Linked DNA regions of Homo sapiens: regions 2, 3, 4 and 5 are each linked to region 1. The links come from fine-mapping of genetic effects on gene expression. A gene starts in region 1. Each other region holds a variant in brackets. All regions are shown on one strand. Distances are between the middles of the regions. Region 1 holds the start of MAOA (monoamine oxidase A). Region 2 has its middle 120 kb from the start of MAOA. Region 3 overlaps MAOB (monoamine oxidase B). Region 4 has its middle 150 kb from the start of PINCR. Region 5 overlaps MAOA (monoamine oxidase A).

The links. PIP is the estimated chance that this variant, and not a neighbour inherited with it, causes the effect. A credible set is the group of variants that fine-mapping cannot tell apart.
Region 2: its variant is the best candidate, but not a certain one, in a credible set for the expression of MAOA in monocytes (Fairfax 2014, PIP 0.62).
Region 3: its variant is the best candidate, but not a certain one, in a credible set for the expression of MAOA in monocytes (Fairfax 2014, PIP 0.54).
Region 4: its variant is the best candidate, but not a certain one, in a credible set for the expression of MAOA in monocytes after interferon gamma (Fairfax 2014, PIP 0.51).
Region 5: its variant is the best candidate, but not a certain one, in a credible set for the expression of MAOA in whole blood (TOPMed, PIP 0.57).

What each region holds. Positions count from the first base shown.
Region 1 is chrX:43,653,158-43,659,472 of GRCh38, reverse strand. MAOA (monoamine oxidase A) reads right to left here and starts at 3,174. Exons shown (of 15, transcript NM_000240.4): 1 at 3,059-3,174. The coding sequence starts at 3,131. RefSeq lists an enhancer at 4,281-4,340 and a silencer at 4,272-4,666.
Region 2 is chrX:43,536,731-43,543,045 of GRCh38, reverse strand. No RefSeq gene overlaps it. Among named protein-coding and RNA genes, the nearest start is that of MAOA, 120 kb to the left of the region's middle. The variant A/C (reference allele first, on the strand shown) is at 2,722.
Region 3 is chrX:43,771,586-43,777,900 of GRCh38, reverse strand. MAOB (monoamine oxidase B) reads left to right here. Exons shown (of 15, transcript NM_000898.5): 12 at 2,629-2,726. Among named protein-coding and RNA genes, the nearest start is that of MAOB, 110 kb to the left of the region's middle. The variant AC/C (reference allele first, on the strand shown) is at 2,845.
Region 4 is chrX:43,326,852-43,333,166 of GRCh38, reverse strand. No RefSeq gene overlaps it. Among named protein-coding and RNA genes, the nearest start is that of PINCR, 150 kb to the right of the region's middle. The variant G/A (reference allele first, on the strand shown) is at 2,710.
Region 5 is chrX:43,685,085-43,691,399 of GRCh38, reverse strand. The region is part of intron 2 of MAOA (monoamine oxidase A); the gene reads right to left. Among named protein-coding and RNA genes, the nearest start is that of MAOA, 32 kb to the right of the region's middle. The variant A/G (reference allele first, on the strand shown) is at 3,979.

The DNA of each region.
Region 1 (6,315 bases):
ATGGAAAAGCAGCAATCAGTATGGGATAAAAATTCAGGATCCAATAGCATCGCTGAAAACATGAAAGGAGTTTCAAAAAGGAATGGGTGATAGATGATGAATGATGGTTAAGGACCAGAGCATTTTAAAGATACCACTAGACCAACAAATCAGCAGGGTTATTTCCCCTCTCAACTATTAACATACTATATATAATTATTTAATTGGTGGTTAGGCAGATAAAAAGAGTTTGTGGTTGTAAGACATAGTCTATTTTATGTTTTATAATGACAAAAAAGGAGATACATCCAGATGCTGCTATTCTCTGTGTAGAGAGTTATTTAAAAAATGTTGCTAATATGGATCAATTTTGAGTAATGTCACTTAGAATATGTACTCTTCTGGGTGCTATATAATAGAAATAACACTGCTGATGCTATGGATTGGTGATGTATTATGAATGTGTGGGTAACCTATCAAAGTGTACAAGTCCTAATAAAAGTTATAAAGAACATCCAAAGGCATATAAAACTGCCACAGGGACTATTAAGTAATTCATGGGATACTGCCAAGCACACACAAAAATGGTATGTTTCTGAATTCACAAGAATGCTTGGGAAGTGATGCTTCTCACCCGCTCATGAAACACTCAGTTTATGTCCAGGATCTAACACGAGCCACACTTGCAACTACTTTCATTTTAGCTGTGAACCATCTGGGAAGGTACCACAGATAGAAAGCAATGTTTCTGGTCAGTTTGAGTATTAAAATCACTCAGATCTGACTGATGGAGATGGCATTAGAGGAAGTCAAGTGCTTTTTCCAGTGTCACTGAAGCTGGCCTCTGGAATAGAGGTGTGAACTACTGTGCAAGAAATGCCCTCTACTTCCCCCAAATGGAAATAAATTAATAATTAAGAGTGACTATGGACAGATTCAGGTTTTGTGGGACCTACAACTTATATATAACTTGGGTATCCTCTCTAAGAAATAAGAAAGCAAAATTGCAAATACAGGACTGAGTATGAAACTGGTTATTTATTTAGAATGAGAACCAGAAGCAACCTACAGTTATAAGGCCATAAAGCATAAAGTTTATCAGCTACATGGTAATTTCACCTCTGCTAATGACCAAGTATGGAGCATAAAGTATAGAAAGGGAGGAAGAGCAGGTAATCAGGCAGAGGAAAAATAAAAAAACCGCGCTCCTTAAGGAATTCTGGAGACTGAACAAGAAAAAGACTAAGAATAAAATCCCAGAAAGAACTCTGAATTGCAGAATACAGATGGTATGGAGATGGGAGAGGACCCAGAACCCCTAGTCAATGTATATAACACATTGTCATCATATTTATTTTCCAGTGATCTACAACCATATTGCTTTTAGGAGGCTTGCCTAGTGGGACCAGATTTTGGGAAACAGCAGTCCACTTCATTGCAGGTACTCAACAAGTGTTTTTTGAATGAATAAATAAATACATAAATAAATAAAGAGAAACAAGCTGAAATACTCCTTTTTCTTACTCTCCACCAGGAGCTGCTTTCCTCTGATGCTCCAACATACATGTATGTTTTTGCTGGTACTGGCTGGAACTGGCAAAGCAACAGTTCATGCCAATCTCTTCTCTTGGCCTGTTCAGGATAAACAATGTTGGGTTCAGATAAAGCTATCTCTACCCAACATTAATTTGTAGCATGTTCAGAGTCTCCTCGAAAGATTTATATATAAAAATGGCTACTGTGGGGCCACTCTACTTACTCCCTCCCATCAGCTTTCTCTTTCTGAATCAGATCCTGCAGGGATAACTCAGAAATTATTAACACCTAGTAGGGGGAGGATAGGTCAGTGTGGTATTCTAGCCAGGGATGAAAGGCAACAAAATTCCTAATTTTCAAACATTTTACCAATGATGGCAACATAGGCGACAATATATCAATCATGATGAGGCTTCCAGGAAGATATTGGAAAGCCTCATGCACCACTCACTTGGTTAGCCACAAATCCAAGCCAGGACCAGGGGCACCCTGGCCCACCAACTGGCTCATCAGAAGACAAGATTCAGGTGGTGGGAGCTCTTAGTGAAAGGAGGAAGGAGGATACAACAGGGCACTCAGCCCCTGCTTCATAAAGGGATTCTCTTTGGACAATAAATGTCCTACACCTTCCTGCAAGTTCATATATATATATACACACACACAGTTCATATATATATATATATAAACACAGTTCATATATATATATATAAACACAGTTCATATATATATATAAACACAGTTCATATATATATATAAACACAGTTCATATATATATATAAACACAGTTCATATATATATATAAACACAGTTCATATATATATATAAACACAGTTCATACACACACACACACACACACACACACACACACACACAGGAATAGTTTAAGAGCTCACCCCCTCTTCTCCTCTTTTTTTTTTTAACCTTTTCTTAAAGGAGTCTACCTCCTTCCTCTTCACCTACTAAATTTTCTACGGAAAATAGAGAAGAGCAGGACTGGAATAACACTACTGCTCCCTCAATACTACAGAAATCTGTATCCTGATGTTCTGTTTAGGGCAAAGGATATGAAATCAGTGAGGCAAAGCAGCCACCTCAGGAATTAGTACTGCAGGTCTTAAATGGGAGAAAATCGTTCAGCCACTTACAAGCTAGGTGATTCGACCTCAAGAGAGTTATTGAAACTCCCCAGACCTCAGTTTCTTGGTTTTGCAAAACGGGGATGAATTTAGTTCCCACCTCACAGGACTGTTGAGGACTGAGAAAATCCACGTAAAGTGCTAAATACAACTGCACAGCAAGAGCTAATTAAATATTAGTATTTAATAGTAGTAGTAGTAAAATTATTGTGTCTGCCTCCCCCAGTCACACCACCAGCAAAACTGGCACAACCCCCACTCCTACCTCGCAGGATATGGGGCCAAGCCATGGCTACACTACACTCTCGCATGCATGAGAGACCCCCAAACACCACAAGAGCTACTGTAGGTTCCCCTACCCCTCACTGGCCAGGGTCCCCCAGGCCACCGCTACGGTCCACACTGACCTGAAATGCCACCTCCGATCACGACTACGTCGAACATGTGGCCCGCGATACTCGCCTTCTCTTGATTCTCCATGCTTTGGCTGACACGCTCCTGGGTCGTAGGCACAGGAGTGGGGACGGCAAAGGGTGGGAAGGACCCTTCTATCAACTCCCCCGGGGAGCCCGGGGGCGGAGCCGATCCTTCTTTTGATACCCGGGGGGAGCCGGGCACTGTGGGCGGGGCGAACCCTTTTGCTGATACTCCGGGAGCGCCCAGGGGCGGAGCTGATGTTTCAGCTGATACCCGGGGGGAGCTGGGCACTGAGAGCGGGGCGGACCCTTGTACTGACACTCGGCGAGAGTTATTAGGTTTAGAATGTCCTTGTGTCGGCAGCTGGAAAGGATTACTGGGTGCAGGAGGTTCTTGTATTGAACCCCGCGGAGTGTCAGGCACTGAGGTGGGGGTAGACGCCTGCCTTGACACTGGGGGGATGTTATGGGGTGCAGGAGGTGCTTGTGGCGACACTGGGGAAATGTTATTGGGTAGAGGTGGTCCTGGTACCAAACCCCAGGGGAAGCTGGACACTGAGGATGCGGCAGACCCTTGTACTGACACTCGGGGGTGTTACTGGGTGTAGGAGGTGCTTGTATTGACACTTGCGAAAGGTCATTGGGTATAGGAGGTCCCCGTACAAATATCCAAGTGTAGTCGGACACTGAGGTCAGGTTGGAATCCGGGGGCAGGGTCGGTCCTTTTACCAAACCCCGTGGGGTGCTGAACCCTGAGGAGAAGGCAGACCCTTGCAATGACTCTACGGGGGAGTTTACGGGCGGGGTAGGTCCTGTTACTAATACCCAGGGAATGCCGGTGTCCTGATTGGAGGCTGTGACGGCCCCATCGGAGGAGTTCGAGCTGGTGGTAGACTTGGGGATCCGACTGCTCGGGTTGTAAGCGCTGAAACCCCGGAGGCCACTCTTGGAGTCGGAGTCAGTACTCTCGCTAAGACCGGTAGTGCTGATTGGGGAGTGTATGCTGGAGCTCCAGGAGGCGGCCTCGGCAGTTGAGGACGTGCTCCACTGGGAACTGGCTAGCGGATCCGAGACGGACCGCCACTCAGAACGGACGCTCCATTCGGACAGGCTGTAGGAGGTGTCGTCCAAGCTGGAGTCCGGGTTCGGGACCTGGGCAGTTGTGCCCCCGGCTTCGGGCGGGCCCTCCGCCTTGCGCTCGGTGCCGGTGCCGGTACTGGTGCGGGTACTGGTGCCGGTGCCGGTACTGGTGCGGGTACTGGTGCCGGTGCCGGTACTGGTGCGGGTACTGGTGCCGGTGCCGGTGCCGCCGGGGAAGGAGGCTGAGGCGTTTGTGCTCATGTTTCTGGAGCACGCTGGGCGCTGGGGGCGGTGTTCTGCTTCCCGCAGCCCTTCTCCACGGTCAGGCTGTTCTCGGTACCCACTCTTAGAGACCAGCCCCGGGCTCCCGGCCCAGTCAGGGGCGGGGAGAAGTGACTCTAGGCCGGCCTGGCTCCGCCTTCCCGGCCTGCCTGCAGGCTCGCGCTGGAAACCCTGCCACTGGGCGTGGCCGGACGATGCCACTGCAGGCGGGGGGCGCGGTTGCCTGGCGAGAGTGGGGGAGTAGACGTGGGTGTAGCCGCGTGGGCTCTCAACCTAGTGCTTTCATTCTTTAGTTTTAACTGAAAGCTATCTGGGCAAGAGTGGACTTAAGGAAGCAGATATATGAAGGCGGCTGAGCCAGGCAGGATCGCAGGGTCGCAGGGTGCTGCCCCACTTGGTCTGGCCCCTTTGTGACGTCATGTAGGGCCCGTCGAGGTCTGCGCAGCCTCCAGCCCTCACTAGGTTGAGGGCGGGGCGGGGAGGGGCGGGGAGGGGCGGGGAGGGGCGGGGAGGGGCGGGGAGGAGCGGGGAGGGGCGGGGAGGAGCGGGGAGGGGCGGGGAGGAGCGGGGAGGGGCGGGGCGAGGCGAGACGGGACGGGGCGGGGCGAGAACCGTCACTTGGGGGAGACCAGGCAATTGTTGGTTCTCTGTGGGGTTTTTCAAGCTGAGGCGCTTAACCCAAATCGAAGCAAGTAGGCAAGAAAAATAACTCACCTATCATGTATTAAGTGGGACTGCATTTTAAAAGGTCAAAGGGATGGCTAAGGTGCAGAAACAAATGAAATAAGAAAACATGTGTTTCCCCATCCTACTGAAAAGAGTGCTATTTAGTGCACATATTTTACTGTGCAGCCAGCCTTCTGTTTGCTAGTTTTATCCCTTTCTTAATTTTCCACTTTTTGTTATCCTGAATTTGTCATCAAAAGCTGAATTTGTCATTACTGGAACTCTCAAAGATAGGTGAAATCTGGCCGGGCGCGGTGGCTCACGCCTGTAATCCCGGCACTTTGGGAGGCCGAGGCGGGCGGACCAACTGAGGTTGGGAGTTCACGACCAGCCTGACCAACATGGAGAAACCGCGTCTCTACTAAAAATACAAAATTAGCCGGGTGTGGTGGTTCATGCCTGTAATCCCAGCTACTCGGGAGGCTGAGGCAGGAAAATTGTTTGAACCCAGGAGGTGGAGGTTATGATGAGCCAAGATCGCGCCATTGCACTCCAGCCTGGGCAACAAGAGCGAAACTCCGTCTCAAAAAAAAAAAAAAAAATAGGTGAAATCGTGACGTAAATTTAGAGAAAGTGATGAGAACTCGAGGAAGCTAATGATGTCTGCTCCCACCTATAAACATTCCTCCTGTTGCCCCTCGCCCCATTCTGTATCAAACATCTTGTTGAATAAACTGTAAAGAAATATGGATTTAGTCTTTTCTTCATCCTGTTTCAATAACTTTTACTTCCTAGAAAAGGACTTGAGACTTATGACTAAATTGAAATCATTTTTATCTTGGTAGACTTTGAGCATAGAGAGAAGAAAAACTAGATATGAAGAAATCAGCTCTTTCTAATGTGATTCTGTCCACCTTTCTCCTTATTCTCATTGTTTTCATTTATTTTCGTTCAAATACTTGATTTCACAGTATGTGCTAGGCACAGGGCATGGTACTGGGATACACAGGCAACACAAGACAGAGACCATCATCATCGAACACACAGTCTAGTGGATGAGTTAATAGAGGACATAGACAACTGTCTATCTGATGTGTAAATACAAACTCTGACAAATGTTATATTAGAAAGATCCACATGGATAAGAAAGTGTTAGGGTGTCCTGAGTCCTGACCCCTCTGGAGATTAACTTTGGGACAGAGAGTGTAAAAATGTTTTAG
Region 2 (6,315 bases), 120 kb after region 1:
CTGTATTATCCAAAATATACTGTAATTGCATGGTTGAACCTGGGAACCATATCTTATTTGACTTTCTGTCTCTAGTACTCATTTTAGTCTCTGAAATAAAGAAGGCTTCACATTTTACAATAAGACAAAGAACTTACTTGTTTCCCAAAAATGTTGCAAGGCAACCTTTCTTCCTTTTTTGGATAGAGTTTTTTCCCTTATATTTTATGATAAAGAAAGGGGTTTCCCTGGCAGAGTGACTCATGCCTTGCTGGAAACATTCACAGAAGCTGACCCCTGGTCCTGTTGGTAGGGCCTACGGAGGCAAGTGTCTAGGTGATGGTACCTAGAGGACATAGCATGGTACTGACTGCCCCCAAACACCTCCTCTCCATCTCTAACACATGACTCTTACTTTTTTTTTTTCTAGACAGAGTTTTCACTGTTGTCTCCCAAGCTGGAGTGCAGTGGTACGATCTTGGCTCACTGCAACCTCCGCTTCCTGGGTTCAAGTGATTCTCCAGCCTCCGCCTCCCGAGTAGCTGGGAATACAGGCGCCTGCCACCACGCCTGGCTAACTTTTTGAATTTTTAGTAGAGACGGGGTTTCACCATGTTGGCCAGGCTGGTCTTGAACTCCTGACCTCATGATCTGCCCACCTCGGTCTCCCAAAGTGCTGGGATTACAGGCGTGAGCCACCGCGCCCGGCCGACTCTTACTTTTAAAATACCATCTGCAGATAATTTAAGACAATACTCTTAGGAGTTTGTTTTAAGATATTCATAAAATTTCTGTTCTCTTGAGTATAACAGGTTAAGCAGCCAATATTTGTTACCACATCAAGCTACTATCCCTCACTTTGCAGAGAACAAGGGCAAGGATAGATGACAATGCCTTTATATGAGGGAGAGGGGTAGGGAAAGGATAGTGTCTGGCGGTTCTCAAAGTACAATCCCTGGACCATCAGCATTTAGAATGAATTAGAAATGCAAATTCTCAGGCTTCACCCCAGACCTGCTGCTTCAGAAACTCTGCCTCTGGGGTTCAGCACTCTGTGTTTTAGCAAGTTCTCCAGATGATTCTGATGCATGCTAAAGCTTGAGAACTTCTGATAAAGACACACATACACACAAAAGCTAAGCCAGATTTTTCACCCAATCACTTTTCAGCTTCACAATTCAGGACAGTGTTCCTGGTGTCCAGCATTGATTAATCAATTGGGAACATCTGCCTTGGCCGTGAGATGGGGAAGGGGATGGAGGTTGCACATGTCACTTGCAAGGGCATACACAGTTAAGCACTAAGGATCTCAGATAGAACAAAAGGCCTTCAGTAAATAGATACTTGAGATGTTAGCCTACCATTTTTCTCTTAACCAGGGCTGCTCAAATTTCATCTGTGTATTAATCCCCTGGGATTTTATTAATATGCCGATTCTGATTCAGTCTGCCTGGAGTAGGACCAACATTCTGCATTTCTAACCAGCTCCCAGATGCTTCTCCTGCTGCTGGTCTTCAAACTATGATTTCAGTATTGAAACTGCCTTTGCAAAAGCTATAACTATGAGAAAATTATGACAGTGAAAGATATCCAATCTAATCAACCCCCATCTTGCCTTTAACCTCTAAACTGCCCTTAATCCTTCCTGGGCCTGGGCCAAGCTAACCTTGGGAGACATTTAGTTTATAGTATAAATGATAATAGCCCTTTCCCAAAACTAAACCTCTTTCGTAAAACTAATGAAAGGCCACCAGGTTAGGAGGATGAGAGGACCCTGGCTTCTGCTGAGGTGTAGACATAAGTAATTACCAGCCCTTATTCCAGAGATATTCCACAAGATATGCAACTTTCCCAATTACTTCTGTGGATAACATCACTATTGTAGATTGGCCTTTGGAGATGTCTTTTCAGGTTTTTGCATTTCTGACAATGATGGCTCCACCCAGACCTGCCCCCTACGCACCCCCAAAAAAGAAGGACCACTTTCCACACACCCCTTCCCTTGCTCGCCAAACTATCCTTGAAAAACCCTAGCCTCTGAATTTTCAGGGAGATTGATTTGAGTAATAACTCTCTCCCACATGATGTGGCTGGCTTTGTGTTGATTAAACTCTTTCTTTATTGCAATGGCATGGTCTCAGTGAATTGGTTTTGTCTGTGCAGTGGGCAGGAAGAACCCATAAGGTAGTTACAGTACCAAGCCTCTAAACGTTATCGACCTTACTTTTCTGAGTCCCTGCCAAAATATTATTTTTAGCAAAAATAGACCAAATGTTATACCATTTTACACAGAAAAATACTGAAAGGAGTGCCACCTGGTAAAACCCTCTACAGGGCAACTAACTGCAGAGTTGTGAATGTACTTTTTCTGCAGTGCTTACTGACTGCTCCTGGGCCCCTTGGCTCTGTCAGATCCGCATTGCAGTACTGCCAAAAAGAAATCCTTGGAACCTTCTCATTTTTATTTCTGTTTATTCTAGCCATTGCTTTCAAACTTCGGTTCAATGCAAGGTGGGAGCCAAAATGGTAAACAGCATTTAATGACCGATGTTTTTCCCTTCTCTCTTCTCCCTTTTAAATAAAACCTACCTGCTGTCAATTACTGAGTACTTCTAGGCAGGATTAGAAATGTCACTAAAATCAGGTCAGCACCACTCTGGAACTTTATCTCCTTTTTCCTTTGTGTCTTTTGTTTCCCTAGGTTGCTTAAGTTATTCTATTAGGTCTTTTCCAAAAAAAAAA[A/C]CCAAAAAACAAAAAACAAAACTCAGTCACCATGGAGTACAGCCAGCTGTGGTAGTAGCAATCAAAAACCTCTTTGCATTAAGAAACAACAAACAAAACCTCTCTGCTATTGTTTTTCTTCCCATAATATTCCAACTCACATGGTATATGATAGAACGTATTTCTTTCTTTTCTTTTTTTCTTCCCTTCTACCTTTCCTCTGTGTGTTCCCCCTCCCCCGTCACTTTCTTTTTCCCTTCTTCTCTACCTCTCTGTTCTCTTTTTCTCTTCCTCTCACCCTCACTGATTTTTCCCTCCCCTCTTCCCTTCTCTCTTTGTTTCTCTCTCCTGTCCTTCCTCGTTATTATCCTGGAACGTGTGATTATAAAAATCTTTCTTTCTGCTGATGAAGTCAATGCATGTATCCAAAGTCTGTCATTGCAGAGTCACCTGAAACCAAGTTCAATGAAGCCTGAGAGAGTTCAGTCTCCTCATCTAGTAACTACCCTTCAAATGAATGCCCCAATTGTTTGTTTTAAATTAGTGAATTGTTATTAACCAACAACCTGAAATCCACTACTTGTAGCTAGAACATAGAGTTTCCATTAATGTGGAACAAGTGCAAGATGCTTAAGGTAGCAGCATGTTTATCGCTTTTCATTTGAAGGCACTAGGTAATGAGGTGGGATGTACAGCATCTGCCATTTCTGTTTACAGCTCACATCTCATGATGTGAGACCAAGTGGCTCCATCCAAGTGAGGGGTGCAGACATTAGCCTCATGCTCACAACCTAGAATGTCTTCCTGACATGATGAAAGTGTTGATTGTAGCTTTCTTGACAAACAAATCCTGAGCCTCTGGGAGCTGTATGAATGTGTGCATAATATCAGTAACAGCTCAACCAAGTACTTCCACCAGGTCCGAGGCTCAGAAGCCCTTTGGTGATATTTATCAATACAATAGGGGAGCAGAAAACAAGAGAGCTGTCAGAAATGCTCAGTGCCTTGCCTTCCTGCAGGCTTGCTGGGAGGAAGCCTCCCTGAGGTTTTCCATTTTCTCCTTATCCTCCTAGCTGCACTTTCTCCTGCAGAGCTTGTTAGAAGCACTGGCCAACACTTCTTCAATTGCGTGAGGCTTCAGACCTGTCTTCTATTAACCAGCGGAAATAATGTTTTCTATTCTGCTGCACAACCACAGGCCAACTAGAAGCAACACACAGGCAAGGAAGTTGACCAGTGTACAGGCCTTAGATCCTTTTTATCTATTTTCTTTGTCAATTATATTTCTAAGTACTTTGAAAACCCACACACCTTGCCTTGTTTTACAAATGATGGCCTGGCCTCATGTGCACATTTAATATACGTAAATTTTCCTGTATGTGTGCAGCAAAGAGGGATGAAGGAATGTTATGTATCTTGGAAATGATTCCAAATACTTCCATAGTTTGCTATGTGAGTAACATGTTTTGCTGTGCAAGAACTTGGAATATACTCCTTCTTCCCCTCGAGCATGTGATGTCTTATCAGACCTCATATGAGAGACAGAGAGCGTTTGCTGTGACCAGGCTGCTCTCTGTCAGCCACTTCTCTGATACCTGAGGTTTGCTCTGTTAATCTTTGAGCTTTGAAGCCTTGCCCACCAATACTGGTACTGTCCTCTAGCACTGAGGGGCCTTACATGTCCTCATGGATCTCTGTTACGTTGAATGCCATCGCTCCCAAAAAACTGCTTGTAACCAAAAGGTATAACTCAAACTTTCATTTGATGTTACTTTCCACAGAGGCCTGCTTCCATCCTGATTGAACAACTAGACTTTAATAATTTTGGATCTCATTCACTATATGCTTAATGTCCCTCATCTATTGAGTGTGTTCCCTGTGAGATTTGTTCATGTTATTCTCCCCCTTTATAAGCATTGTGAACCTAAGGAAAAAAAAATTCTCTTTTTATGGCAATAAACTGTGTGATTAATGAAATCACATTTTGATAATCTCCTTATTGTGATCATACATAACAAGGAAGGATTTAAACACTTCAAGAAATTTTGCCCATCCTTCACTCAAGAGGCATGTGCCCCAGATTGAGACTTCCTGAGGGGACAGCAGATTCTAGGCTTCTGTCTCATGTTCCTTGCAATGTTTCTTGCTTCACTGAGTCTGATTCTAGTATTTAAAGACTCAGCATGTATTTTGAATACAGTGTAGCCCCTGTGTGCAACTGGGCTTTATGGAAAAATTCTGTTTCTCTAAACTGAAGTTGTAGTGGAGTAGTTAAGAAAGAGCATAGGGACTGAAATCAGACTGACAGGTCCCAAATTCTGGCACTAGCTACTTGCTGTTTTAGCCTCAATTTCTCCAACTCAATTTCCCATCTGTAAAGTGTGGCGAATGTTGTAGGGGAGGAAAAACTTTGCCCTCTTAGGTTCAAGCACTGGGCCTGCAAATTAAATTGACAAAAGAAGAAAATGTTTACTATGCATGCATGCAGGAACTTTATTAAAAAAAGTAAAAATCCAAAGAAGTGGTTAGACTTCAGACCTTATGTACCATTATAACAAAGGTCAATAAATTATGGAGAAGTGACTAGACAAAGCAAAAGTAGTTTGGATTTTTAGGGGCAGTAAATAGTGGGAAGGTAAATATATGGGAAAAAAATTAAAGAAGATAGGGTTAATTAGTAAGCTTTGTTATGCAGACTCAAATCAGGGCCATCTCCAGTGTCTGTGGTGATTAAGAGTCATTCTCCTCTTCCCAGTGCTGGAGAGAGGAGGGGGGGACACCTTCACAAAGGGAAACTTACGCCCTGCTTTTAGGCAGAAGCAGGGAGGATAAAGAATTCCTATTCTCGCTGGGCGAGGTGGCTCACGCCTGTAATCCCAGCACTTTGGGAGGCCGAGGCCCAGGCCGGTGGATCATGAGGTCAGGAGATCGAGACCATCCTGGCTAACATGGTGAAACCCCGTCTCTACTAAAAATACAAAAAATTAGCTGGGCGTGGTGGCGGGCGCCTGTAGTCCCAGATACTCGGGAGGCTGAGGCAGGAGAATGGCGTGAACCCGGGAGGTGGAGCTTGCAGTGAGCCGAGATCACGCCACTGCACTCCAGCCTGGGTGACAGAGCGAGACTCCGGCCCCCCCAACACCCCCAAAAAAAGAATTCCTTTTCTCTTCTTGCTGCTTCTTAATTGCCTTTAGCTCAAAATAATCCTTATGCCAAAGTGGCATATTTTGGGCTGGCACAATCCGATCCCCTTCATTGTGAAGTCTAAAGAGTAAGAATTCCAGAGGGTTGTTATAAGGATTAACAGTAGTAAACATTTTATAAGTACTCTTTTTCCCTTTCAGTGAGGTAGAGGAACAGGCTCTAAATCACATAGCTGGGGAAGTATGTACATGCTCTTTAGGGATCTCTGGGGAAATGGAGTGCCTTCCTCAACAACTTCCCTACAGAAGCCTAGGTGGAAAATCAAGTAGTCATGGGGAGCAAGGCCTCACCTCACCAAAGATCTTTTATTTACCATAGGGGCTTAGAGTATGTTGGTGGTGAGACAGCTTGGCTGGTGGTTAGGTGGGATTGGGCTGAGCAGATGAGGAATGATGATTCACTAAGTAATCT
Region 3 (6,315 bases), 120 kb before region 1:
ATGACATTCATCAGACTGCTAAGTTTTTAATGTTTTGACATAGACTATGTCACCTTTTGAAAGTGATTATTAAATCCAATTATCTGTGAAGCATTTGAAGACAATGGAGACCAATGTACAAATGAGCAGTTAATGCGTGAGAAAAGTCTAATGAGGAGGCTGAGAATGTTTAACTTGTTAAGCCTCTTAAATCCAAGTCTCTGTAGTATATACCACAATCTAGTTGAGCAGCTACATGACTTAGTCCTATTACTCTAACACTTACTTTGCTCAGCTTTGGAGTGACTTGCTTCCTCCTGGTTAAGTTGTTGTGTCTTTCAAATTTGTCATTTTTGTTCACTATTTTAAAGCAAAATTCTCTCCCTCCCTCCTCGCCCCACCATTGCAGATCTTCTGTACTTGATACAGGTGAAACACATGCTCTTGATGTTTCTTGGAATTCTTTCTCAGCAAATAAACTAGAACAATTAGAGAAACAATATTAATGAGGAATATGTTTTGCTTTTTTTTTTTGCTTTCATATACCAATTAGCAAGTTTAAATATAGGCATAGCCTCCAGGCTCAAGGATATTGAGTAAAGTATCAAGACAAAAAATACAGTATATACTCACTAAAAACAGAACTTAACATCTGTTAAAAATTATTAGTTTTTCTGTTTAAAAATGCCATTCAGCATGATTTATAATCCTTTGGGTATATACCCAGTAATGGGATTGCTGGGTCAAATGATATTTCTAGTTCTAGATCCCTGAGGAATCGCCACACTGACTTCCACAGTGGTTGAACTAGTTTACAGTCCCACCAACAGTGTAAAAGACATATGCACACGTATGTTTATTGCGGCACTATTCACAATAGCAAAGACTTGAAACCAACCCAAATGTCCAACAATGATAGACTGGATTAAGAAAATGTGGCACATATACACCATGGAATACTATGCAGCCATAAAAATGATGAGTTCATGTCCTTTGTAGGGACATGGATGAAGCTGGAAACCGTCATTCTCAGCAAACTATCGCAGGGACAAAAAACCAAACACTGCATGTTCTCACTCATAGGTGGGAATTGAACAATGAGAACACATGGACACAGGAAGGGGAACATCACACACTGGGACCTGTTGTGGGGTGGGGGGAGGGGGGAGGGATAGCATTTGGAGATATACCTAATGTTAAATGACGAGTTACTGGGTGCAGCACACCAACATGGCACATGTATACATATGTAACTAACCTGCACGTTGTGCACATGTACCCTAAAACTTAAAGTATAATAAAAAAAAATGCCATTCAGTGCTAGAGGTCTGGAGAATAAAGAGTGTGGAGTTGATTTAAAAAAAAAAGCCATTCAAGATATTTCACCCTGGTAGATATTCAAGCTTTGTGAAGTTACATTCTGAGGCACTCCCAGGCTAAAGCAGTTTGTTAATTGAAGTTCCTGCAACAACTCGTGAGATGGTTGTTTGGGGAACTTCAGTTGAAGGGGAAAGCATTTGTCCTCATATTTTGAAAAAGGCTGATCATTTTTCATTTGAGAAAGTCTCTTTTCCTAAGAAGGGTGTGCATGATTAATTCCTGATGATAAAAATAAGTTGGTCCTGTCCTTGTTTGCTCTTGGCATAGAGAAGGCCACTTGTTTTCTTTTTGCTTTGGTGTCTATTTTGTGGAAGGAAGAAATTCCTGGGAACAAGATACATTGAAAGATAAAGTCCAACTTTTCTTCTGATTGGCTGGAGACAGCCAGAGAAGCTTGCTTAGGAGGTGGATGTAGCCGTCAGGTGCTGGGGCGTGTAGCGTGGTGATACCACAGAAGACCTGGAGCCACTTAACCCATCAGGCAGAACCTCATAATCATACTTTGTAAATAGGATGCCTTACAAATGACTGTCCAAAGTCAGCTGTGTGATTGCAATTCTTTTAAACAAAATGTTTTTCAAAATCTCCCTTTAAAACAAACATTGTTTTCTTAAAACTTGCTACGTTGATTTTATCTTTTCGAAGTAATGCTTAATGATAAAGCTTCTGTTTGGTTACTTTAAAAAAGCATTTGAGCTTTACAAAATCTCTGCCAATTTTTCCTGTTCGTGTCAAAAACATATTTTTCAGACCAATAGTTGTTTACAAATACCACCATCAACAGAAGTGCTTGCCTGCCACAAAAACATGTTTGTTCAGCCTCCCTCAAGAAAGCTCACCTCCACCAAAACATGAACCTGATAATCCTTTTTCTTCAACAGACATATTTTTCTGTCTTTTTTTCCTATCCAGTCACTCCAGTAAACATAAATCCTTTTAAAAACTTTTCTTGAAACCATCAGGCACTAAAACTTTTTAATAGGTAAAACCAAGGTAAAAATGGAATTAGATTATCGCAATTTATGAACAGTACTTAAGATACAAAGAAACCAAATGAAAAAAACATTCTAAGATCTGAATTTCTTAGAAGCTTATTACCAAGGACATTTACCTGCCCAAAGACATATCTTTAAAAACATCAGGATAATGCAACTCTATTTCCGAAATACATTGGTTTGACAATACAAAGCCTACTAAACTGTTCGATTTATTCTAGGCTAAATAGCTTTCTCTGAGTCTCCTTCAAGTTTTTGTTGCTCTATCTTGCAGCCAGTGCATTATGAAGAAAAGAACTGGTGTGAGGAGCAGTACTCTGGGGGCTGCTACACAACTTATTTCCCCCCTGGGATCCTGACTCAATATGGAAGGTAGAGTAAAAGCATGCTAAGCTGTTACAGAAATCCCCTGCACCTGAATCCAAAACCTAAATAGGTTCAGGTAGCTCTTCTCCCTTGTTTCTTATAAATACAAAAAAAAAAAAAAAAA[AC/C]AACCCAATTTCCTTTGTATCTTATGAATGAAATCGTGTATCTTATGAATGAAATCATTATAATTATACATACATCATGGTGCTGCTTTTCCCTGGAAGAGCAATTCCAATCAATATAACCATAGAAGGTTTCAGCATAAGAATAGCATTTTACCCCATTCTTCATGATATGATTATTACGCATTGCATGCCTGTATCAAAACACATCATGTACCCATAGATATATACACCTACTCTGTACCCATAAAAATTAAAAATCAAAAAAGAGTAGCATTTTAGGTAGTCCAAGGGTTCACCCAATGTCAGAAGAAGTGTCCTTATACTGAGTTAGGACTCAGTAAAACTTCCTCAAATGCCACTGTACAACTGCCAACACGGGGACAAAATTATAAAAACAAAATGAGTTCTAGACTGGGCATGAAGAGACTTGGGTCCCAGCTCTGATTCTACCAATAACAAACTTTGTCATGCCAAACAGGTCACTTCTCCTTTCTGAACCTCACTTTCTTAGCAAGTGGATGGGAAAGCACAAAATGATGAAAAGTGAGCAATAATCAGTATGCTCAAGAAAGTATGAGTTTTTTTTATTTTTTGATCCTAATCCTTAGATGCTGGGAAGTATGAGTTATTTTTTAACATCCTTATTGAGACGTAATTCACATACCATACAATTCACCTATTCAAAACGGTGCACAGTTCAATGGCTTTTAGCATTCACAGCATTATACATCCAAGTGTGTTGTTGTTTAGTTAATTTATTTGATGACAATAAATGAACTAATAATATAGCAGTGATTTTTATGACTATTATACTATTACTAAACCAAGCAATAATTTAATGCCAAAAGCTTAATCTAAACAGGATGAGAAATGTAGACTAGTGAGTCAAAGACTGTTGAAAGTATGCAGCAAACAGAGGGGGTAAGTGGAAATGGCTAATCAATCTGTCCATGAAAACTGGTCGAATAAGGAGTAAAACCTGCTTATCAGAAGATACGTAATAACTTTGGTTAGCACTTTCTTTACCTGCTTAAAGATGGCAAAATATTATCCAAGAGAACATTCTGGGGCCAAGGGGCAGCACCTGATAAGCTGCTGGGTCATTAAGTTAATTTTTAGATATGCTGACTGTGTTACTCTATTTTCACACTGCTGATAAAGACATACCTGAGACCGGGCAATTTACAAAAGTAAGAGGTTTATTGGACTTACAGTTCTACATGGCTGGGGAGGCTTCACAATCATGGCAAAAGGCAAGGAGGAGCAAGTCACATCTTACGTCGATGGCAGCAGGCAAAGAGAGAGCTTGTGCAAAGAAACTCCCGTTTTTAAAACCATCAGATCTTGTGAGATCCATTCATTATCACCAGAACAGCACAGGAAAGACCCCCGCCCATAATTCACTCATCTCCCACTGGGTCCCTCCCACAACACATGAGAATTATGGGAGCTACAATATGAGATTTGAGTGGGGACACAGAGCCAAATCGTATCACTGAGTGTAGAATATGTCAATGGTATTTGTTTCATTCTGCATTTATTGGCTAAGTGCCAACCATTTGCGAAGCACTGTGCTGAGAACTTCAATACCAAGGACAGCCTCCCTGCTGAGAAGGAGCTGACAGTGTTGAGGGCTAGGGTGGGGATGGGGAGAGGACATGATATCAAAAATTGACTCTAAAGTACTGACATATGTCCCTGGAAGGGAATAAGGATAAAGGAGGGCACTACTGTATCACCACTCAGAATGTTACCACTGAGGTAAATGCTCTAATACAGGGGCATAGAGATACCACTGGAACACACAGAGGCACAGGCTAGCTTTACTTAGAGAAATCTGGGAAGGCTTCATAATGCACATACCACCTGAGGGTTGTAGGAGGCAGAGAAAGGCTATTGGGGATGCAGTCTATGCAGATGGAATGGCATGAGGAAAACGCTAGGATCCCACAGGTTTCTGGAAAGTCTGGGGAAGAACTTTGCATGGATGGTGTATTAGGCCATTCTTGCATTGCTTAAAATAAATACCTGAGTCTGGGGAACTTATAAAGAAAAAAGGTTTAATTGGCTCATAGTTCTGCAGGCTATACAAGCATGGTGCTGGCATCTGCTCAGTTTCTGGTGAAGCCTCAGGGAGCTCACAATCATGGCAGAAGGCAAAGTGAGAACAGGCAAGTCACATGGCGAAAGCAGGAACAAGCAAGTGTGGTGGGGAGAGGTACCATACACTCTTAACGTGACCAGATCTTGCTAGAACTCACTATCATGAAGAAGGCACCAAGCCATGAGGGATCCGTCCCCATGATCCAAACACCTCCCACCAGGCCCCACCTCAAGCATTGGAAATTACAATTCTACATGAGATTTGGGCAGGGACAAATATCAAAATATTATATCAGATGGGCTATGGGTGATATTAAGGACAGAATGGAGAATCAGATCAAAGGGGGAGGAAGAACAGTTTGCCCTATATGACACATTCAGGAATACAAAACTTGATATTTCAACAGAGAACAGCTATCACTGCATTACTTTTGTTTTTGGCTTTGTTTTAAATCAGAAGTGTGATATGATTAGATTTCTGACCACAGAGTGGTGGGTTTTATGCTCAATTTCATAAATACCTTTTGGTTTGGGGAACAAAGAGGACACTAACCTGAACTGGCCTGATCCTGACCACGTGAGAGAAGCAAGATAAATCCCATTGTATCTGGCATTGGTGGTGATACAGTAATGCCTTCTTTTATCTTTATTCCTTCCCAGGGATATATGTCAGGCTTCCTATAACTACCTTCAATTTTTAGGGTAGAAACTAAGGCACAGCATAGCTTAACATAATTCCCAGCTTGAACAGAGACTACCTGCCCAGAAGACTTCCCTTGACCCTTCAGGGCCATGGTATTTAAGATATTGCAATAAGTTTTATATTCAGAGCCCTGAAAGTTCACAGTACATGTTCTGAAGGAAAAGAGAAGACAGAATTACCAGTACAACTTGGTAAAGAACTAAATATACATTTCTTAAGAAATGTTTCTTCTGGATAGGGTGAAAAAAATGATTGTCGTGATTATGCAGTAAAACTCATAAGCCACAAGAAATATATGTGGAGTTCCCCTTTATGATGTCCTATATCTTTTGTAAATATATACTGTCTGTTCACGCACCTGCAAAAGAAGGGGCAGGTATTTTTCTTACCTGGTTGTTGGACTCTTTTTTTCCCTTAAAGGAACATAATTTCCAAATGACAAGTGGCGGGAAACTATCTCTTTGTTTAAAATTAATTCTTGGTTTTCACATATTCTGATTTATAGTATGATTAGTTCTCTAAGCCTTTGTTCTGTCTTCTAATATTTCATTCTTAGGGTCTAGCCAGGCCTCCTAGAGGTCTCCAGCTGGGGTTAGTTTTCTCCATTGAAAAAAAAGTAAACATGTAGTGAAAAACGGCATTGTTTAATCAACACGGGGAAAGT
Region 4 (6,315 bases), 330 kb after region 1:
TGGTTGACAATTGAAATCCCAGCACTTTGGGAGGCCAAGGTGGGAGGATCACGTGAGGCCAGGAGTTTAAGACCAGACTGGGCAAGAATCTGGGTGCTACAAAAAATAAAAAAAAATTAGTCAGGTATGGTGGCACACACCTGTAGTCCCAACTATTCAGGAGGCTGAAGCAGGAGCATCACTTGAACCCAAGAGTTTGAGGCAGCAGTGAGCCATAATCCTGGCACTGCACTTCTGCCTAGGTGACCGAGTGAGACCCTGTCTACAAAACAAAACAACAACAAAAAACTTTAGACAAATTAAATTTAACAGAGTTTAATTGAGCAAAGAACAATTCAGGAATTAACGAGGCCCTTGAACCAGAATAGATTCAGAGAGACTCTAGGACAGCCACATCATCGAAGAGGATTTATGGACAGAAAAAGAAAAGTGATGTGGGCCGGGGGCATGGTGGCTCACTCCTGTAATCCCAGCACTTTGGGAAGCTGAGGTTGGTGCGTCACCTGAGGTCAGGAGTTCCAGACCAGCCTGGCCAACATGGTGAAACCCCATCTCTACTAAAAATATAAAAATTAGCCAGGTGTGGTAGCAGGTGCTTGTAGTCCCAGCTACTTGGGAGGCTGAGGCAGAAGAATCACTTGAACCTGGGAGATGGAGGTTGTAGTAAGCCGAGATCGCACCATTGTACTCCAGCCTGGGTGACAAGAATGAAACTCCATCCCAAAAAAAAAAAAAAAAAGAAAAGAAAGAAAAGAAAGTGAGGCACAGAAACAGCTTATTGGTTATAGTTGGCATTTGCCTTAATTCAACATGGCTTGAACAGTTGGCCACCTTTTAGCTGAAACTCAGTGATTGGTAGAAGAGCAAGTTATAGTCTATTTAAACATTTAATTAGGTTATAGTTCACCATGTACAGAGAAATCTTCAGGTCACGTTTAAAATATTTAAGAAGGCAGGTTAAATTCAGTGACTTTCTTAAGATCTCATGGTAAATTGGAAGCTGGGATTAAGGTTTCTGAGACAGAATGCCTGGGAACCCTAAGTTCTGCATAATGCATGTCAGGTTTCCTACTTATTTTCCTTTCTATATTTTCCTCCTTAACACTTCCAATTCATTCTATCTCTGGCTTGCAATTTAATTCCTTCTTGCCCACACCACTGAATCTCCACTGCTGAGCCACAAAAATAACTCTTTCTCTGCACAGCTGAATTCTCTTCTTTCCAAAAACAGTTGTGGATAGAAGCATCCATTTCTTCACAGTAAAACTCCAAACCTGGGCTGGGCTTGTCATGCTTGTAATCCCAGCACTTTGGGAGGCTGAGGTGGCAGGACTGCTTGAGGACAGGCCAAGAGATTGAGACCATCTTGGGCAACATAGTGAGACCCCGTCTTTACAAAAAATTTTAAAAATTAGCTGGGTGTGGGGTACATACCTGTAGTCCCAGCTACTCCAGAGGCTTTGGAGGGAGGATCACTTGAGACCAGGAGCTGGAGGCTGCAGTGAACTATGATCATGCCTCTGCACTCCAGCCTGGATGACAGAGCAAGACTACATTTCTAAAAGCACAAACCCAAACCCTATCCACCAGTCTGTTTTCTTGCCTCAAGGCTCTAATAACATAATCACAGAAGAGTTAAACTTTCAACATTTTCACAAGTCTGAGGCACTGTTTCATATTTTTTTGTTACCTTATTATGCTAAGAATATTTAAAACCCATAGAAAATTACATGGATAATTATTACTAAAGTCAACAGTGGTTTTCTTCTCACGTTTCTTAAACTTAACCATCTTAATCTAATTATGATAATTCTACCTAAGTAAAGATTTATTAGAGTTATATTTTCCTTCTTTTTTCATTCATACCCTCTGGAGCTATAATGAATAGGGAAACATTTGTAGGTTAGAAACTGATACCTAACCAGGCTCTTTCTGCTCACACACAGTAAGCCAATCACTGTAACAATGGGTTTTGCAAAAGAGAAAGGGGTTATTCATGAGGCAGCCAAGCGAGGAGGTAGGAGACCAGTTCTCAAATATGGTTTCCCCAAAATAGTACAGGTGGTCTAAAGTGTGGGAAAAGGTGATTGGCAAGTAAGAAAGGTGAGGTAATTAGGGTTTCTGTGCAAGTGTAATCAAGCTACATGGCTATTCACTGGACACATGTTCAGATAATGGCATTAGCATGATCTGAAAAAGGAGTTTTTGGTCATGTGATGTCAAAAGGTTACCTCTTGAGCATTTGCACAAGCCTGGTTGAAGGGTTGGTGATCTCAACTAGTTTGAACTGGACAGGAGCTGTCCCTAAGTTTCTAAAAAACAACTTTAAGCAACCATTACTGTAATGATCCACAGTCAGAAATGTTATCAACAAGGAAGTTAGTCCAATATTAGATATGTATTGTTTGGCTATGTGATTTGCTAGTGGGAGTTCTAAGATCAACTAGAAGTAAGTGATTAAAAGCAGCCAAGGCTGCTTAAGTTTGGCAGGCTTAATCAGGTTAGCCCTCAGTTTCAAAACGAGGAGGGTGAAAAAAAATCAAATAATCTTGTCAATCTACTGATTAGTCAGTGAGTTCTTGCATAATTTGGAATTTGGAATCCCTTCATTAAATTGCATCTCAGAATCCTGAAGGTTTCATGACTCATCAGCATCTCTGATATCCAGAAAATCTTAGATACATTCTGAATTTAGGAGAGAGAGAGAGA[G/A]AAAAAAAAAACACCACCAAACACCCTGCCCCTTGCCCCACAACACCCATATCTTCTTGACAGCCAAGTAGAAAATAACATAGAGAAAGTCCTCAGATAATCATTCCATTTCTGGAATGATTCCAAATCTTAGCACTTCATCTTTGTTTTTGCTTGTTGTCACATCCTATGAGGATTGTCTAAATGTTGTACAGCTATTAGATTACCTGAAAGATTGAGTTGAAAACATTAGGGCAACATATAGTCCCTTCTTTAAAGGGCACTGGATGTTGGTTATAACCAGAAAATATGGAGCCTGGATCTATCCTCTGAGATTAGAATTTTATAAAATGCCCTATTTATTAAACTATTTTAAAAGGCATTAATTTAGGTGAACTTAACCTAGACTTTAAGAACAATAAGAAGAATAAAATAAAACTTCTTGAAAAAAATTTTAAAATAAGATGCTGTGCTTAGATGTATAAAAGTTTATAATTTCCCATAGAATAAATGATTAAAAATAAAAATACTCCTTTTAGTTTAATCATTGATGCCAGGAAACTATTTGGGGAATGATAGGGTTAGAAAGGTTAAAAGTTAAATATTACCTGAAGCACAGCCCACAAATAAGTTTTCTTATCATATAACCATCTCTTTTCTCCTAATCTCCTGTTTTATTTTTTTCTCTAAAGCTCTTATTTGTTTGCTGACCATCACTTTGGGTGGTTTAAATAAAATCGAATTAGATGTAATAAACTGCAGATAATTTTCTGCTTGTTTATTTTATTTTGGGTTTTTAAAAACTATTTATTTCATAAATAATCACATTGTATTCATTACTTACGCCAAACACCATAGGAGATAAAAACTGAATATGGCACAGATTATGTCCTGAAGAGACTCATATTCACCCACTGATCATCTTTAAAAAAACTATTTGCAACAGTATTATTTCTTGCCAATAATGATACCAACATCAAATACATCATCTTTAGTCTGTAGTTTTTTCCTCCCTGACTGCATTAAAAAATCTGTGCCAGCATCAAAACCTTCTTCCCCACAAATGATTGGTCATTGAAAACATACAAATAAAGGAAATTGAATTATTTCTTTCTATGTTTGTTCTTTTATTGGATCCATTTGGATATTTAAATAAACTTTAACAGTTGAATCATAAAATGATGAATCTTTCTAATTCTTCTCTTTTGACTTCATTGATTCTACAAACTTCTGAGCACCTATTGCATGAGAGGTGCTGTCATATGTCGCTTTATGATCTAAAGAGAAGACTCTCACATTTTCTGAAGCAGCAGAAAAGAATTATATACACATACAGAAAATTTCCATCTGGCATTTTGTGACAATTTTTTGATCCACTGGTTAAAGAACAAAATCAAATATCATGCTTTGTTTAAAAAAAAAAAGTTGAAGGGGTGAGGAGGGTATTTAAAGTATATATATAAGTAAGACACATATTTTTTTTAAAATATAAAATGGTGGAACTATAAATTGGTACAACTACTTTGGAATATTGTTTGGCTATGCCTAGTAAATCTAAACATATGTATACCCTATAAATTATAAATTAAACTCCTAGTTTTATGCCCATCAGAAATGCACACACATGTTAACCAAAAGACATATTCTGGGTTTCTCATATTGTGGGAATCAGGAGACCGGAGAGACCAATAGGGTGGAACAGAAGGATTTTATTTAGGGGCACCTGCTCAGCGGATTCACATCCAAAAGGCTGAACCCTAGAAAAAGACAGGGCTTGACTTTTATACATGCATCTGTGGCACGAAATGCAGTGACGCAAAAGCACGTAGAACAAAGACAGTTTATCAAACAGTGACAGGCTCATAACTCAGGCTTTCATGTGACTCCTGCTATGTGGGCCAGGTGGCTGTTATCTAGGCTTGCTCAGATGCCTGCACAATCTTATCTCGTGTCCTTCGCTACAGCGCCCAGATGGCTGCAATCATATCTTACTCAAGCATGTCGCATGACCTCTGCAGTGCTACAGAGATTTACAGATACTAGTTACAGAAAACAGGAATCTATAAACTCATAAAAACTTGCAGAGCAGGGTACAATGGTGTAGCTCAGGGTACAATGGCACAGAGCAGGGAGGGATTCGATGGGGAAGCTGCTCATACCAAAGGAAAGGAAGAAAATTTTTTTCCCTTTTTAACTTCTGCTTCACTCAAAGCAGCAGTATTAAAAATAGTCAAGGTAAAACTCAGGAAGATGGTGGATAGGACACAGGGCTAATGTGCATCTCCCACTTGAACGGACAGAACAGCGTGTGGAGACTCACACTGTGAACTTTTGCACCAAGAATCGTCACAGGAATGTATGAGGGAAACAGAAAGAATTTACAGATCCTTTGAAAGAAGTGTCATGTTGCTGCAAACTCTACGAGACAGGCAAAAACTGTTAGTTACCAAAGTGTACGAGGGGGAAAACCTGCCTCTGAAAACACTTCCCCATTGGGGAGTCTCAAAATCCGTATCACTGGAGAAGGATTTAACTTTGCCTACAGCTGGAACAGACTTATGGAGCCATGTGCAATATTAAAGTAGAGGCAGCAGCAGAAAGAGCTTTGTAGATACTCCCAGTCTTCAGCTTCAGCCCAGGGAAGCCGTCCATGACTATATCTCACAGGAGCCCTTGGGGAAGGGAGCCAGCAGAATTAGGGAGGGGTCACAAGGTGAAAGAAGCTTCCAGCTGAATTTTGTGATAATTTTGACTGTGCACAAACTTCCTTGAACAGAATCCTGAGTGGGGGTGTGGCGAGTGGGATCTGCTGCAGATATAAGCACAGAGCCACTGACATTGTGAGCAGACAGGGAAGGGCATGGCCTGAAAGCCATGCTTGTTTTCTCAGCAGGGAAGCTAATGGCCAGGTAAAGGTCTGAGTTCCACACACAGGTTGCCTGGATCTAAACTATTAGCAGGGCACTGTGGGAGCGAGACCAGTCTCACCAACTGTGTGGGAGGTGGGTGAGGCCTTTCACTACCAGCTATTCCCCACTTCCCTGGTGAAGTATACTGCACAGCAGAGGCAGCCATAATCCCCTCTGGAACATAACCCCAATGACCTGAGAACCACCCCCTCATCCCCTACAGTGGCCGTGGCAAGCCCCACCCAAGAAGAATCTGAGCTGAGACCCGCCTAACCCTGCCCCACCTGATGGTATTTCTCTACCTGCCCTGCTAGCTGAACACAAAGGACATAAACACTTGGGAGCTTTATGGCCCCACCCATCACCTGAGAAACCAGAATACTTCCCCTGGCTAACTTGGGGCAGTCTCAAATTCCATTGCTAATACCGCAGCTGGTGCTCTCTTGAAAGTGTCACCTCCTGGTTGGAGGCCAACTAACTCAGGCCATTACAGCAACTCATGATAGAATAACACTGTTCCCAGGAAGAAGAAAACAACAGCTAACACCATTGGCTGCAATATCCTGGCTAACCACAGGTCCCAAATCTGTCCACATGACAACTTTGCTGCTAGCCAGGATTCAATGCTGCCAACCAGTATTTGAGAAAGCTAGCACACTAAGCCTATCTACAACCAAGGATTCTCACAAAGTCTATATCACTTTCCTGCCACCTCCAC
Region 5 (6,315 bases), 32 kb before region 1:
CTTTTTTATTTTTATTTTTTTTTTTTGAGACAGGGTCTTACTCTATCAGTCAGGCTGGAGTACAATGGCATGATCATGGCTCACTGCAGCCTCGACTTTCCTGGGCTCTATGAATTCTTCCACCTCAGCTTCCTGAGTAGCTGGGATCACAGGCATGTGCCACCACACTCAGCTAATTTTTGTATTTTTTGTAGGGTTAGGGTTGCTCAGGCTGATCTCAAGCTCCTAAGCTCAAGCGATACACCTGCCTTAGCCTCCCAAAGTGTTGGGATTACAGGCGTGAGCCCCACATCTGGCTCTGATCTCGTATTTATTTGGGGTGTTTCTTTTTCTGGAAAAATCTTATCAGACACTTCTTGTGTATCTTTAATAGGTCTCTTCAAAGAATCAACTTTTATTTTATTGATCCTCTTTGTTGGGTGTCTATTTTCTACATCATTGATTTATTCCCTTTTTACCCCTTCTTTGGATTTATTTTGCTCTTAATTTTCTAACTCTTTGCATGATTAGCTTATTCATATATAGCCTTTTTCTTTTCTAATGGAAGAATTTAGACTATACATCTTCTAAGTATTGCTTTAGCTGCATCCACGACTTTATATTTTCCATTATTTTGCAGCTCTAAGTATTGTCACAAAGAAAAGGAAAAAAAAAGCTTATCTTTATTTATGTTTTCCATCTGAATTTAAGCTATCCATATGATATGAAAAAACTTGGGCAGAAAATTTAAAGTGTCAAGGACGGTGGTAGAAGTAGACTTAAGTCCTTTTCCCCTATGCCTCAAATAATTTACACACAGATAAAGTTCCATGGAAAATTAGCAACCCACAGCCAAAAGTTACAAAACATACATGCAAACAAGGCACCAAAAGAAAATAAGCAGAAAAAATAATCCAGAAAGATTTCATAATAGTTGAATTATACACAGAATCTAAAAGTACTATGCAATATATTTTAAATAAAATAAGTCATTAAAACTAGGAGCAGGGGAAAAGAAACTGAAAATATTATCAAGTAGATTAAAAAATAACTGCTAGCAATAAAAATGTACTAATTAAAATTTTTAAAACTCCGTGAATGGATTAAACCATATATTTGACATAGTTAAAGAGTGAGTAAACTGCTAGATCTGAATAAATTATCTAGAATGCAGTTCAAAGATAAAGAATTGGAAAATATGTTGAGGAGGTAGTTAAGACATGGAAGATGGTGTCAAAATATTAAGTAGTATTAAAAAATAGTGGCTGAGGATTTACCAGCATTGTTGGAAGATAAGAAACCCAACAGGTCCAAAGAATGATAAATAAAAAAGAAATTCTCACCCAGACACAGAGAAACTGCAGTATACCAAAGAAAAGAGCTCCTAAAAGCAATTCTTTTTCAGAAAACAAAAGAGGCAAATCATACATACTCTGAAAAAAATCAACAATTAGACTTACGAGTGACTCTTCAACAATAAAAATACAAGCCAGAAGATAGGGGAATAATATCTTTGCTGTTCTGAGAGAAAAAAAAAGAGGAAGAGAAATTCTAAGTAGAATTTGTTACCTGTTAGAACTATGTTTTTGTCAAGCTGACAAGTGTACAGAGTTTAGGACCCAGATTGGAGGAAAGGGTGTGTTTCAAGTAGAATGAAAATGGTTACAAATAAAAGGTCTGAGATTCAAGAATGGACAGTGAACAAAGATACTGGCAAAACTTTAAAGAAAATTAAGCAACATCAACAATAGAATAAAATAAAATTAATAATGTCTGAGAAACATACAAACTTGAAATACTTTTATAGTTTACAGATTGGAAGAAGGGTGCTCACAACTGAAGCATGAAAGCTTTTGTATTTTTTAGTAGAAAGATAGTATGTTGATAAACTTTAGACTACATTAAGTATGAGTGTTAATATAGTTAGGAAAATTGTCTGAAAAACATTGGTCTGACTATATAACTTCTGAACAAGTAGAAGAAAAAACTTAAAAAGAAAACAAAAAGAAGAAAACCATTAACCCAAAAGAAGGAAAGAAAGAAACCAAGAGGAAAACTGTTAAAGTGGGACAAATGGAAAGCCATAATATAATAAAGTTAAAACATTTAAAAAAGAAATCATAACAAATATAGATGGACCAAGTTTGTCAATTAACTCCACTAAAAATGCAAAAATTAGTTGGGTGTGGTGGCAGCGCCTGTGATCCCAGCTACTGGGGAGGCTGAGGCAGGAGAACAGCTTGAACCCAGGAGGTGGAGGTTGCAGCGAGCTGAGATTGCGCCACTGCACTCCAGCCTGGGCAACACAGTGAGACTCTGTCTCAAAATAAATAAATAAATAAATAAAAATCCTGTACCCCCTGAATCTAAAATTTAAAAAAAGGAAAAAAAGTCAGAATAAAGAAAACTCTAACTGAAAGATAAAGAGATATACAAATACTAATGTAAGCTGTTATAACTATATTAATATCAAAGAAAACCTTAAACAAAATAAATCTCAGTGAAATAAGTGTCACTACATAATGCTAAAAGATCCAGAAGGCTAACCAAGTTTAAACTTGCATAAACTGAGTAATATAGCTTCAAAATGTAAGCAACATTTGACAGGAACCAAAGATAAGTGCCCAGTAGAACAGAGAATTTTTAACATACTTTTAAAAGTGATTAATAGATTAAGCAAACAAAAAAGAAGGAGCACAGTTAAGCTTATTCTAGTGGACATATATAAAACACTGCATATAGCTTTTAGAGACTACATGTTCTTTTCAAGCAGAAATTAGAAGATCTTTGGATATTAACCATGTGCTTGCTAGGTTATAAAGCGAGCCTCAAGGATTGTTACCATGAAACAATATTCTCTGACCACAATGCAGTGATGACGAAAAATAACTGAAAAACATTCCAGGTGTAGAAATTAAAACACACCAGCCTGGCCAATGTGGTGAAAACCTATCTCTACTGAAAATACAAAAATGAGCCGGGCATGGTGGCGTGAGCCTGTAATCCCAGCTACTCAGGAGGCTGAGGCGGGAGAATTGCTGGAACCCAGGAGACAGTGGCTGCAGTGAGGTGAGATCGTCCCACTGCACTCCAGCCTGGGCAACAGAGTGAGACTCCGTCTCGAAAAAAAAAGCAAAAACTCCTAGCAACATGGATCTAAAGACTGTAATACAGAAGTCTGCTGGTATATTCAAGAAATAGCAAGGAGGCCAAAGTGGCCGGAACAATGTGAGCAAGGAAAAAAATTGAAGATGAGGTTACAGAGGTTATTGGCAGAGCAGGTCACGTAAAGCCTCACAGGACATTGTAAGGACATAGGCCTTGGCTGTCAGTGAGAAGGGGAGCCGTTGGAAGGTCTTGAGCAGGGAAATGCTAAAATCTGAGTTACATTTGAAAGGCTCACTCTCACTGATGCACTAAGAAAGAACAGAATGTAGGCGGCAGGAGTAAAAGCAGGAAAATCAGGAGCCTACTCTAGTAATCTGGCCTAGAGATATAATGGTGGCTCCCACCAGGGGATAGCAGTGGAAGTGGTGGGAAGCGTTGAATTCTGGATATGTTTTGAAGGCAGGGCCAACGGAATTTCCTGACAAAACAAATGAGGGTCTGGTAGTGTTGAGCATGACTCTGAGTTTTTTCGAAGTTGCCATCTTCTAACATGGGCAGCTGGAACAGCGGCCTTAAGGAAGATCAGAAGTCTAGTGTTGGATGTGTTACGTTTGAGATGTCTATGCAACATCCAGGAGATCTACAAATTTCTAACTTCCATGTCAGATGAGCACAGCATATTGTATTCAGCATTTTACTTATTTCAATGAGGAGTTAGGGTTTCCATTCTGCCATAATACCAGAAATGAAGTGCTTCTGTGACTTCTTTAATGTGCCCTCATATAATGTTTATTCTCTCTTTTAGTAACCATCAGTGCTGTCCTTCAAACCTTTTCTAATCTACAACAACTATTTTAAGATATAATGAACAAAACTGGAATTAGTACTCCA[A/G]TAAATTTCTGGGCTTTAACAAAGACAGCAAGGGGACTCCTGGGAGTTTCCAAACATGATGTCTTTAGAATGCTGACACTATCTTTAAAGCAAATAATCCTAAATGAAGCAGTAAAAAGAGTGAGGCATTTTGCAGAATGTTCCTTTACAAAGTAAGAACGTTCTAAATGAAGTGCCTCAAATTCAGCATGAAGACACTAGAAGCGGTAACACTGTATTCTACTGTGTTGCACCTCAGTCTTTGGGGTCTTGATTTAGATCTCACTACTCAGCCTTTGAAGAGGCCACAAACATGCAACAATATTGGAAACATACACCAACCCTGTGGCAGCCCTGCAGGCATTTCAACTTTATTAATTTGACTCTGAAGAATCATGGATGAATCACATTAGGAAAAACGGGCAAGTTCTGAACTAATGGAAGACGCATCTGAACAGCTTGCCAGGTAATACCAAATTTGACATTCTGGTACTCAGAGATCCATAGTAGCTTTTATGGCATCTCCTCCCAAAATTATCCTAATTGATTATGTTATTAGAAGCAATTTAAAAAATATTTGCTTCAGTTTCTTATTAAATACAATTTTCATGCCTGTTTCCTTTTTTAAAATTTTTAATTTTTTGAGTCAGGGTTTCACTCCTGTCACCCAGACTGGAGTGCAATGGTGCAATCTCGGCTCACCGCAACCCCTGCCTTTCAGGCTCAAGTGATTCTCCTACCTCAGCCTCCCAAGTAGCTGTGACTACAGGTGTACACCACTGCACCTGGCTACTTTTTGTATTTTTAGTAGAGATGGGGTTTCACCATGTTTCCCAGGCTGTTCTCAAACTCCCAAGCTCAAGTGATCCACCTGCCTTGGCCTCCCAAAGTGCTGGGATTACAGGCGTGAGCCACCATGCCCGGCCTCCATGCCTGTTTCTTAAAGCCCTCTTTCTCTCCTTCTCATCATTTGGAGTATAAATGCTAAGTCCTAATTTCCAAGCATTTCAGAGATTCCTTTCTCACATTCCTAAGGGGGGTGTAATGTCATGCTGAATAGACAATAACAGTTCCTGTGTGGTGCTGACATATATAAATGACACAGCATGGCAAAGTAATTGGGGCCAATAACACAGATGGGGACAAGTATGTTGGAATTCTCATTTCCCTTATACAAAGAAACTTGTTCTTAACTGAAAATCCGCAACATGACTAATGCTCCTGTTTAATAACCAAAAGGTTTTAGAGATAAGAAAAATAGAGCTAAGGGACAACTTAATAACTATCTCCAAAGTGGAGGAATATTTTTCAGAAAATGACAGAAGAATCATATCTAATAAAGGCATACAGGCAGAAGATGCAGCTCTTCATTTGCACTATAACACGCTGCCTTCAATTAGAATTTGAAGATGGAAGGGAGTTTCTTCGAGGACATTTAGATAGTATCTTATTACTCAGATGAGAAAACTGAGATGTAAAGTGCTAATAGGACTTATCCAAGACATCATGTCAAGTCAGTACAGAGGCTAGAATCCCAGTCTCCTCACTCCCAGACCAATAGCTTCCCAGTGGACTACATCTAAGGGAGCACTCAGAAAATTTAATCCGGATTGGCATTAGTTTAAGGCAAGCAAGCAAACAAATGCCACAGAGTAGCACTTCTATAGTGTCCCCTGGAGATGTTGTCAAAATGCAGATCCAGATTCAGCAGTTCTGAGATAGGGCCTGATATTCTGCATTTCTATCAAAATCCCAGTTGATTCTGGGGCTACTGACCCACAGATGACACTTTGCATAGCAAGGCTGTACAGCACCCTTAGAGCTGAGCAAAGCAGAAATAGGCCTAGATACATCCCTGTATCTAAAAAGGTAGGAAGCAAATGACAGAAGGGTAGCATGGTACAATGTGGCTGAAATCGCTGCTATGAAATCCTAATTCAAATGTTGTCTGTAGGTTATTCTAGTATCCATTGATATTTCCTCTCCCATGCCTGCTTCCATTATGTAGCCTAGTATTGTGAAATACTTACTTTCCCAGGATCCCTGACAGCTGAGGGTAGCCATGTGACTCAACTCTAGCCAATGAGACTAAAGCAAATGTCTGCTGGGGTCTTTTGGCGAAGGAAAAGCTTAGTTGCAGACAAGGCTAGTGCCACCCTTTCACTCTCCTTTCAGCCTTGAATGAGAACTTGATGCTTAGAATCTCAGCATCCATCTTGTTACCACAAGACAATAAACCTACATGCAAAGAATATCAGAGCAGGGCTGGGTGCGGTGGCTCATGCCTGTTATCCCAGCACTTTGGGAGGCTTCAAGGCCAGTGGATCACCTGAGGTCAGGAGTTCGCAACAAGCCTGG